Linked DNA regions of Homo sapiens: region 2 is linked to region 1. Evidence: fine-mapped expression QTL. A gene starts in region 1. The other region holds a variant in brackets. All regions are shown on one strand. Distances are between the middles of the regions. Region 1 holds the start of MARK2 (microtubule affinity regulating kinase 2). Region 2 holds the start of RCOR2 (REST corepressor 2).

Region 1 (5,504 bases):
CTTGTTGCCCAAGCTGGAGTGCAGTGGCGTGGTGATCTCGGCTCACTGCAACCTCTGCCTCCTGGTTTCAAGCGATTCTCCCGACTCCACCTCCCAAGTAGCTGGGATTACAGACGCCCACCACCGTGCCTGGCTAATTTTTTGTGTGCTTTTTTTAGTAGAGACGGGGTTCCACCATGTTGGCCAGGCTGGTCTCGAACTCCTGACCTCACATGATCCCCTCACCTTGGTCTCCCAAAGTGCTGGGATTACAGGCATGAGCCACCGCGCCTGGCAGGCAGAGATCTTTATCTTGTTCACTGATCTACCTAAAAGCCTAAAACAATGCCTTGCACATAGTAGGTGCTCAGTAGGGATTTGCTGAATGAATAAATGAATTTGCAGATTTAGAGAGGGGGTAAATGTGTGGCAATAATTCATCTTTGAGGAGAACTAGGAGGGTTCATGGATTTGAGTAGGTGAGATTTGAACTGGATCTTGAAGTGGTTCTGGAAGCTGAGGTGGATGATGGGCAATCATCTATCAGCTTGACCAAAGGCATGGAAGTGAGAGAGACTGGCAGCGGGGTAGGAGTTAGGGAGAAGTGTGATCAGTGATAGTTGGAGAGGTTATTGTAAGGCAATGTGAGGCCAGATTGAGCAAAGTTTTAAATGCAGGCTAAAGGCTTTTCCTACAGCCAGGACCAGCTACATAATTTGTGGGGCACAGTGCAAAATGGAAATGCATGGCCCCCTTGGTCAAAAATTTCAAGATAATGGGCCGGGCGTGGTGGCTCACGCCTGTAATCCCAGCACTTTGGGAGGCCGAGGCAGGTGGATCACTTGAGGTTGGGAGTTCTAGACCAAACTGGCCAACATGGTGAAACCCTGTCTTTACTAAAAACACAAAAAATTAGCCGGGTGTGGTGGTGGGCACCTATAATCCCAGCTATTCAGGAGGCTGAGGCATGAGAATCACTTGAACCTGGGAGGTGGAGGTTGCAGTGAGCTGAGATCGCACCACTGCACTCCAGCCTGGGAGATAGAGCGAGATTCAGTCTTAAAAAAAAAAATTTCAAGATGGTGACAGCAGAGCATTAATCCAAGCTCAGGGTCCACCTGAGCACAGGGCTCTGTGTGACTGCATGGGGTCGTGGGCCCAAGAAGCCAGCCCTGCCTATAACCAGTGAGGGAGCTGGTGATAGCTTTCTAGCAGAGCAGAGATGTTATTGGAGCTGGACTTTGGGAAGATTATTCTGACATGTCTGGTGCAGTAGGTTGGAGGGAGTCTAGGCGGGGAGACAAGCTCAGCAGCCTTGTGCAAAGCTAGCAAGGAAGAGAAAGGATAGGTAGGGTAGGGGTTGGGGATGAAGGTCAAAGGGCAGGGGTGAGGCAGGGGTTAGAGCTAGAGTGAGAAGCTTGGAGAAGATGGAGTCTATTTAGACGAGAGTGTGGACCAGGGAGAGACTGCTGGAACACCAACCACCAACTGCTTCCTCTCTCTTTTCCCTGCTTTCCAGACCCTGGCATTAGAGGTGATACCAGGCACAGGAATCAGCAACGTGTCTCCCTTTGGCCACCAGAGGGCAGATGATTCTCAAGGATCGAATTTGGGTTGGGGAGTGAGGTGTTCTCTGTCCTCCTCTTCTCTCTTTCCCTCACCTTCATGGGTGTGCCTTCACCTTCTTCCTCAACGGTTGGGTGCCTGAATAGAGCTGGTATGGGGCATGGGGAGCAGTGCTGAAGTCCCAGGATTTACTAAGAGTGTAGTGATACCTGTTGCCTTAGGAAGTACTTTCATACCCTGGTAATTACATCTGCTCAGATGCCTATTTCTCTGATTGATGGGATGAAGGCTGGCTCAAGATGCTGTAGCTGGGAGTTGGAGGTCAAGTAGCAGGGGTCCAATCAGCAGTTTTCCCAATAACTCCTGGAGCCTCTCTGCTCCTGTACCTTTGGGAACCTGTTGCCTGAGTCTGGTTTCTGACTCCTGCGGGGCCTCTGCCTCCTGCCCACCTTAAGCCACTGATGGGAGGGTGTGGTTCCAACGTGTTCCAGGTACTATGGGTGAGGACAGCTTGGCGCTGGGGAAATCAGCCCAGGATACTCCCTGTCCTTGGTAACGCAGTGTAAGGGGAAGTGAGGAATGGACTGCAGTTGCCATACAGACTTCCTGTTAGTCAAGGGCTCTCCAAAGCTGAGAAGGACCTCCGAGTTCATGAATCCAATGGCTTCACTTTACTGATGGGGAAAATGAGGCCCAGAGGAGGAAAGAAAAGAAACTTTAAATGCCTTATCTTGCAGAGGCATTTTAAAAGGTAACTGGAATTCAGAAATGTCATTTTGAATGTCAACGCAGGAGCAAAGGCAAAGGAAAGAGGAGCCTAAACTCAGTGATGTTATGTGATTTTTCCAAGATCACGCAGCATTGGCACTTGGCAGAGCTGGGGCTGAAATGCAGGGCCCTGGACGCTCCCGCATCCGGTGCAGAGGACGCTGCCCTGGGCCTGCCTGGGGCCTTGCCGAGCCCTGCGGACTAGATGCGGGAATGCACGGATGAATCCACAGAAGCCAAGATAGACGGTGGCAGACAGGCAATAGACTGATGCTGCATTTGACAGGTATATTGATAGGCTAGATGATAAAAAGAAGATGAATTTTATGAGCTGACCGACAGATGGACAGAAATGCAGACAGGAAGCTGCTATAGAACCAGAGGATGCCAATCACAGGGACGGCTAACAATCTTGTTTTGTATTTAGTCAAATCACAAGCACAGACAGGTGACCCACGCTTCCTGTTCAAGGTTTGAAAATGCCCGAAAACTGACGGAAAGACACGAAGCGAATCAGACTCCGAGAGCCACCCGGGGAAACGACCGGGTGCTCGGAGGGCCTCGGGTGTTGCCGGAAATGGCCGACGACCGCCCTCGGCAGGGCTGTGGGAGGGGGCGTGGCCGGCTCAGCACGCGGAGCAGCTTCGGGTATTTCCGGAAACTGCCGAAAGCCCCCTTGAAGTGGGCGGGGAAAGGCCGGTGGGCGTGGCTGGATGGCCGTGGACGGGGGCGGGGGGTAGGCACCCGGGGTCGCTTCGTGGATTTCCGTAAACAGAGCCGAAGCTTCGTCTTCGGAATCGAGGAGGAGAGCGCGTCCCCGGGGTTTACCTTCTTCGGCTGTTTCCGGAATTCACCCGTAGTCTGTGGCCGGGAGGAGAAGGCGCGCCCCACCTCCCGTTTCTAGCCGCTTCGGATGTTTCCGGCTGCTGCCGGCGAAAAGAGCCGAGGGCCGGCGGTGGTGGCGGCCATGTTGGGAGCAGCAGGTCCGGCGGCGGCTGCCTGTGTGCCGGGCGCGGAGCAGTGCCGCTGAGGGCAGGGGAGGAGCGAGGCAGGCGGCCGGCTGCGGCGGCAGAGAGTAGGCGGAGCGGCGCGGCCCGGCCGAAAGGCGGCACAGCCCAGCCGGGGGTCGGGGGGGTGCGGTCCGGAGCCGCTCGGAGCCGGCGCGGCCTAGCCCGAGCGGCGCATCCCCGGGCTGGCGTGAGCGGCTGCCCGGCCTCCCCGCACCCCCGGCCGGGGCCCATGCGGCGGGTGCTCCTGCTGTGAGAAGCCCCGCCCGGCCGGGCTCCGCGCCTTCCCTTCCCTCCCTTCCTCCAAGCTTCTCGGTTCCCTCCCCCGAGATACCGGCGCCATGTCCAGCGCTCGGACCCCCCTACCCACGCTGAACGAGAGGGACACGGAGCAGGTAAGGAGCCCCGAGGGCTCCCCGAATTCTCTGGCTGGGCCCTTTGCACCTTGCGGAGCCTCCTCCCTCTTCTGCTCTCCTCGTGCCCCTGCTGCCATCCTGCAAGCCTCGGCTGCCCTGTCATCCGGCTCCTGGCTCCGGCTCCGCACATCCCGCTTCCGAGTCCTGACCTGGGACCCACCTCGTCCTGACTCCAAGCTGCACACTTGTCTTTCTGCCAACCCCCGTCTCCCCTCACCGCCCTCCTGCGCTCTTCCGTGTCACCTCCCCAGCTTCCCTTTCTCTTCCCTTTTTCTCTCAGGGGCCTTTCTGGTCTTCCTCCACCCACGCTTAAAGCAGCCACCCTCCCGCTCCTCGAATAGCAGCACCCCGCGATTTGCCACAGATCGTTGTCCACCTCTCCCTTCGTCTCTCCTGCCTCGCTTCCCCTCCGCCCGCACCGGTTCTGCCAGTCTCTGGGTTATCACCCTCAGGGTCCTTGCCCTGGACTGCGCTCTCGATCCCTGGCCCCTTGCAGTTCCCCCAGCTTTTTCTACCCTGCTTCTTCGTTTTCCAAATTGTGCTCTCCCTCTTGCTTGCAACCCACCAGCTCCACCCTCATCACCTTTCCAAATCCTTCGCCTACTCTTTGCTCATCACTTTCCCTTCTTTGCTCCAGGAGCTCCCTGGATCCTGGCGCTGGCATTTGTCGCTTCCGTGTTTCCCCACAGCTGTCATGCGCATAGTTTTCCCACAGGTTGCGTTTGGGGTTCCAATCATCACTCCCTTCAGAGTCTTTGGATCCCTCTTGTTCTCTTCCCCTCGGGTTTGGCTTTTAGGTCCCTGGGCCTCTTGTTTCTCTCTGTGAGTGTTCTACCAGCCTTCTACTGGGCTCTTTCTCCCAACCCAAAGACACTTGGCCCCACCGTATTAACACAACCTGTTGCTCAGTCCTTTCCCAGACCTCGCTGCATCACAGTTTTTGCCTTTCTGTCTTCGTACGCTGGAACACAAACCATGATGACTTTCTGTGTCTTCACTCCCGTGCCTGGCACTTAGAGTATTTTCTTTCTTGCTTGTTGCCTTCCTGTTTCTCCACCCTCACCCCATCTTCCTTACTGTGCCTTTTAATCAGCGTTGCCTTTCATCTCCGCATTAGTCTCCTGCCTTCTTCATGTCCTGTGTATCCCCACACCGTGCTTGGATCCATTCTGTTCCTATTGGCTAAGTCTCTGTAATGCCCAGGAAGTCCAGGTGTTTTGCATGCTAGTTTCTTGAGCTACACCTCAGCCTCACGACTCTACACGGTCCCCCTCATCCTGGCAGTCACTGCTATGTTTTTCACCCAAGTCTTAGCCTTTCTGTGTCATCTCACTTTTGATCCCAGAGACGTCCACTTTCCACACCTCCCCTTTCTTTCACCATCTCTAGCGTCCTTTGCTGACTGCTCTGTGCAGAGTCCCCTGCCTGTCATACCTTTCTTGGTGGAGAACTTTACTAGGCCAAAAAAACTTGACTTGAAAAAGAAGTGCTTCTGCCCCGGGGCTGCTGTGCTTTTTGCCTTCTTTCCCCTCCTTCCATCCTTTATGTTTCCCTCTTACTCCCTTCTTTCTTTGTAGCCCGGTAGAGCAGTTGTTGTATTCTCTTGCATGTGAACATTCTTCTTTGAAAAATCTTACCTCCTTTCTTTTACTGTGTTTTTCTATTTTGTTACCCCCTGGCCCTCTGTCACCTGGGCAGTTAGGAACTAAAGAGAAGTTCTAGGCAGAGTTTTTCTCTGCAGGGTTGACCCTTTTATTACTTGTGGATT
Region 2 (5,000 bases), 78 kb after region 1:
GTGAGGTTGGCAAGGTCCGGGCTTCCTGACACTGCCGTGAGGCCTTCAGGGCTCAGGTACATGCCCTTGGGTGGGCGACGCCGGGTTCGCAAGGGATGGTGGCGGTACTGAGACACCTGGACCTCCTTTTTCCCAGGGCCTGGGCGTGCATTCAGGGGCCGAGAGGGTAGAGGCTGCCAGTGAAAGGAGAGGCAGGTAGGTGGTGCAGAGCCAGAGAGAGGCAAGAGGACAGGCAGGCAGGGCCCAGAGGCTCTGGGAGCTCACCTCTCTCTTGGGATCTGCAGGATCGGGCTCTCCCTCACTCACGCCTCCTCGACCCTCTTCGAGCTCATCACTGCTGACACAGGGGCCAGGGAGGGAATGAGGCAGCTGCCAGGAGCTCTACCTACCCCCATGCCCAGTGCTTGCTCCTGCCCCCACCTGTCTTCTTTGTCCTTGCGGCCCCCCAGCCGCCGGGCCTGTCTGTCCATCACACTAGTTCGGCTGCGGGTCTTCTTCCAAGAGTAGTAGTATTTCACCAGGCTGGGAATCAACTTGTCAGGCAGCTGGAGGAGGCAACGCCAGAAGCTGGGGACCACTCAAGACTCTGGGCCCCAGGTAAGCTCTTCAGAAAGGAGGGGCAGAGGAGCGCCGGGGAGTGGGGGTGGAAGGGCTTTACCATCTGCTGGATCCGCTGGAAGCATTTGCCATGGAAGCCAAAGGCCTGTTCAAACAGCACCTTGTCCTCTACTGTCCACTCGTCAGGGAATGGGGTGAAGTTGGCCAGGTCGGCCAGCGACTTCTCCACATCGTGCTTATGCCACAGAAGCATGCCCAGCGCCTGGCCCGGGGCAAGGGGCAGCTGAGCCTGAGCTGCCCCGGCACCGTTCCACCCCATTCCCAAGTCCCTGGGGGCCAAGGCTCACCTGCTCAATGTTGTAGCCATGCTTCTCCTTGGCCATCGCAATGTACTTGTCAACTGCAGGGGCAGCAGGGGCAGGGTCTTGGTGAAGGGGGTTATAGCTCCTAACCCAGGCCTGTCCAGAAAGGGACCACCCCACAACGGCCAGGTCCCTGAACACGAGCCCCAGGGCAAGGGTTGGACCCACGAACACCTCAGCTTCCAGCCCCCTTCTGAGAAGAGCTAGCTTGGAGCTGGGATGAACCCAAGCCCCCACCTCCCAGGGCTGTGCCCCACTCACGCTTGGCATCTGACACACAGTGGTTGGGTGACCACACCAGCATCCCCTTCAGCTCCTTGTTGCTGTAGCGTGCGGGGCTCTCTGAAAGGCCGAGGAGCAGGAGGGAAGACACTCAGATCAGCCTGGTGGCACAAGCCTAGACCCATGGCCAGAGGGCAGCAGAGGAGTGGAGCCAGGGAGGTTGAGGCCCAGAAGGGAAGGAGGGGCAGAGACCCAGACAGGAAGGCAGGGCAGGAAAGCAAACCATGCTGGGGGGCCACCCACCCCTGCCAGCCTGCCCTTCCAGGGGAGCCAATCAAGGGCGCCCCAGGTGGGGCTGCAGGCCAAGCCCCGGGCCTCCACCCCCACCCCACTTCACAGCCTGTCCTGCGGCTCACCAGGCTTGCACTCCGGAATTACGGCCTGGTAATTGGTTCCAACGCGGATCATGCTGTCTGTGGAGCCAGGGGGAGGCAGTCAGGACTCCAGGGAGGGCGGGCGGGAGGGAGGATGTGGCGGGCGGGGGAGGTGGCCGGCCTGGAGTTCTCCTTCCTGACCACCCAGGGCCCCCACCTTCCAGGAGGCTCACTTTTCCCTCATTGTACCCCAGTTACCTGCAGCCACAGAAGGGACTGGAAGAGGAAAAGACCCTGTCCAGCCATGGCCATTGGGGCTGGAGGGTGGACAAGGGGACAGTTTTAGAGCCCAGGCCAAGCAGGGTGCTTTGTTCCGGGGGAGGGGAGCGGGGTTGGAGGGCAGCCCCTAGACCTGGACCACAGCCCTGCAAGGAACCCAAGGCTCCTTCCCACCACAGGAGCCTCACAGCTCTGTGTGGAGGTGTCTCTCCAGTCCCTGCTCCAGCCAGACCTCAGTCCCCTGCAAGGTGGCAAGGTATGAGGGACCCACTCTATGCAAGGGAGGGATGCCTCGGTCCCTGAGGGGGTGAGGGCAGGGCAGGGGCCGGCAGGACGCCTCCACAGCAGCTAGGGGCCCAGGTTCCAGATTGGCTGTGCCGGCAGCCTGGGTTTGTGGGAGAAGCAACGCAGAGGCTCCAATCCAGGAGAGGCAGGAGCCATCAGTGTAACAGGCTCGTGGTCTGCAACTCTTCCCCCTCCCGCCCCACTCCGCTCCCCCCAGGCCGGCGCGCCTTTAACCCTAGGCCACCGGGCTCACCGTGCGAGTGCTCCTCCTCGCTGCTGTCATCCTCCGAGTGGGGCTGTCCGCCGTTGGGCACCGTCTTGGCCCGGCTACGGGACAGGATCCCAGAGCCCGCGCTCGGCTTCTCCATCACTGAGGGCATTACCCCGCCCAGCTGCCCCGGGGGGCGCAGGAGCCTTCGGAGAGCGACAGTGGTTGCCGCACTCGCTCCGAGTGCCGAGCCCGGCCCGGCCTGGAGAGGTCGCCACTGAGGTTAGGAGAGGCAGGAGGTCAGCGTGGCTAGGGTCCGGCGGGGTGGGAGCCCACCTGGTAGCCCCAGCGCTCTCCACGACCCCCACGAGCCAGGGCGTCAGAAAAGTTTGTGCAGAAGTGGGGGACGCAAGGGATGAGCGCAAGGTCCGGTGCGGCTGGGGCGTGATTACTATGTACGCCCCTCAGGGTTGGGGTTCCCCTGAAGTCGGGGCCCCCTGTCCTCGGGGCGCCCTGGAACCCCACCGCCCACCTGCCCACG[C/G]CGTTCAGCGGCTGGGCGCTGGAGCGCAATCTGCGCCCCCCGGGCTCTGCGCCTCTCAGCTGCGCCGGGGATGCCCCAGTCCCCGGGCGGGGACCCGTGTCCTAAGCAGACCCCTGCCCGCGACGGCAGCCGGCCGGGGCACCGGCGGCGGCGGCGGCGGCGACGGCGGCGGGACGGCGCGCACGGCGCGCGGCGCTGGGCAGAGTTGCCGGGAGGCGGGCGGAGCGCAGCCGCGGGTGCCGCCTCGCACCCTCCCCGGCGCGCTCGCTCTCCCCGCCGCGCTCGGGATGCCGCTTGCTCGCCCGCTCTCCGCCGCCGCTCGCTCCTCGCGCACACAATGAAGCTGCTGGCAGGGAAGTAGTGCCGGCTGCGGCCTCAGCACCCCTCCCCCAGCCGATGCCTCCGCCAGCTGAACATCTGGCCCTGGGGTGGGAGGGAGGGCCCGGGGGGCGGGGCCAGGGGGCCGGGGCCAGACCTCCAGGGGGTGGGATCAGGACCCTGGTGGGGCGCGCGTCCCGCTGCGGGGGCTCCCCTCGCGTCCCTGGGCTCCCAGACTTGCCCCTGGGGGAGACCCCACTGCCCCCCAGGAGTAGCCAGGGGTCAGCCCCACCCACGCGCACACCAACACCACACACCAGTGGGCTCGGGTTACTGCCGCCTGCCCCGGGGGCCCTGGGGCCGCCTGCCCGCCCGCCCGGGTGGAGCCCAGCTTTTCCTTCCATTTCCCTTCCTGCCAAGGAACTCCCCGCCCCCCCTTCCGCAGGGGGGACCCCCCTTATGCGCCCTTGGGGGCCAGAACGGATGGGAGGCTGGACAGGCAAGGAATGAATTCCTCCAAGAGCTACCCAGCCAGAGGCTGGCTTCTGGTGGATCTGTGGGTCCCCAAGGGTCGCCCCAATTCCCTTTAACTGCTGCAGTATGCACCCCTAAACAGTGGTAGCAAGGGCTGAGGGATGGGGAGTGGGAGGTGTAGGGGAAGGTCTGGGCTGCAGGGGAGAGAGGAGCTGGGTCTCCTCCCCACTGGGTTCACTGTCACCCCAGCTGGAAGCAGCATCCCCCTCCCCCCGGACAAGCACGGGCAGAGTGACAGACAGGGAAGCGGGTAGAGCGGCACAGACGGAGATGGGGGAGGGGGTGGGCAGAGACTTTCAAAGCCAGACCCAGCCACCCTGCCAGGCACACAAAGAGCCAGCGCACACACCGGCGGCGGCTCCGAGCCTGCGAGCTGCGCCCGTGCCCGTCCCCGCCGCCCGGGGCACGTGCTGCAGCGCACACAAGCTGAAGCCCCCGCCCGCCGCCCCTCCCACCCGGAGCCCCAGTCTCCTGGACACACCTCCACCCAGGCACACCCCGCTGTGCCCAGACTGAGCCGAGCCCGCACTCGCGCCCTCCTCTCCCTTCCCTTCCTGGTCCACTCTGTAATCAGATTCCTAAATTTAGAAGCAGCCTAGGGCCCAGCCAGGGATCCCTGCCCCCACCCGCTGCCTGCGGCCGAGTGGCCGGGGTGTTGCGGTCGGGCCACGACCCGGCTGGGGCCGCTTGTTCCCGGGGACTCCTGCGGACAGCCAGGGAAAGCCAGGCTCGACCCCACCCGGCTGCTGCGCCGTCGAGCCACATGGGGCCACCCAGCCAGCGGCCACGTTGCCCGCCACACCTCGGGCCAGGGCTACGGGGCCTTTATCCTCCTCTTAAATCATGGATTGGGCACCAAGCCCCAGGGTGGGGAGGTCTGGACAAAGGAGAATGAATGGACCAGGGGCTGGTCTGAGCTAAGGAGGTCTGATTCAAGACTGAGAGTCTTCCCAGGCCGACCCCTCCTAAGTGGCAGGGCGCCATCCCTGTCCCCAGCACCTCCACCCTTTGGAGAGACTCTCATTTCTGTCCCCTCCTGCCTGGCAGGCAACCATTGCTGCACACCAGCCTCTCCTACGGTGCTGTCTTCCATCTTGCCCCCGCCCCCTATTAGGCAGGGCCTCAGTTGAGTCCCCCATCCCCCTTGCCTCCTTCCCAGACTCAAACCTGCACCCCCAGGCTCAGCATCCTGCTTATTTCTTGCCTCCCTACTCCAGGGCTGCCCCAGGTACCCCCAGTCTCTCTAGCAGGGATCCCCAGCCACTGGATTCCCTCCGGCCCAGCATCCCTCTTCCCCGCCTCCTAAGAACCTCATTCTC

The links. PIP is the estimated chance that this variant, and not a neighbour inherited with it, causes the effect.
Region 2: its variant is fine-mapped to the expression of MARK2 in whole blood (TOPMed, PIP above 0.99).

What each region holds. Positions count from the first base shown.
Region 1 is chr11:63,835,846-63,841,349 of GRCh38, forward strand. It overlaps MARK2 (microtubule affinity regulating kinase 2), which reads left to right and starts at 3,265. Exons shown (of 19, transcript NM_001039469.3): 1 at 3,265-3,715. The coding sequence starts at 3,662. RefSeq lists enhancers at 1,951-2,939, 3,200-3,349 and a silencer at 3,360-3,599.
Region 2 is chr11:63,913,997-63,918,996 of GRCh38, forward strand. It overlaps RCOR2 (REST corepressor 2), which reads right to left and starts at 3,168. Exons shown (of 12, transcript NM_173587.4): 1 at 2,334-3,168; 2 at 1,559-1,615; 3 at 1,182-1,262; 4 at 906-958; 5 at 659-820; 6 at 421-545; 7 at 265-334; 8 at 1-173. The coding sequence starts at 2,460. RefSeq lists enhancers at 671-1,623, 2,245-2,908 and silencers at 3,000-3,119, 3,260-3,319, 3,997-4,046. The variant C/G (reference allele first, on the strand shown) is at 2,830.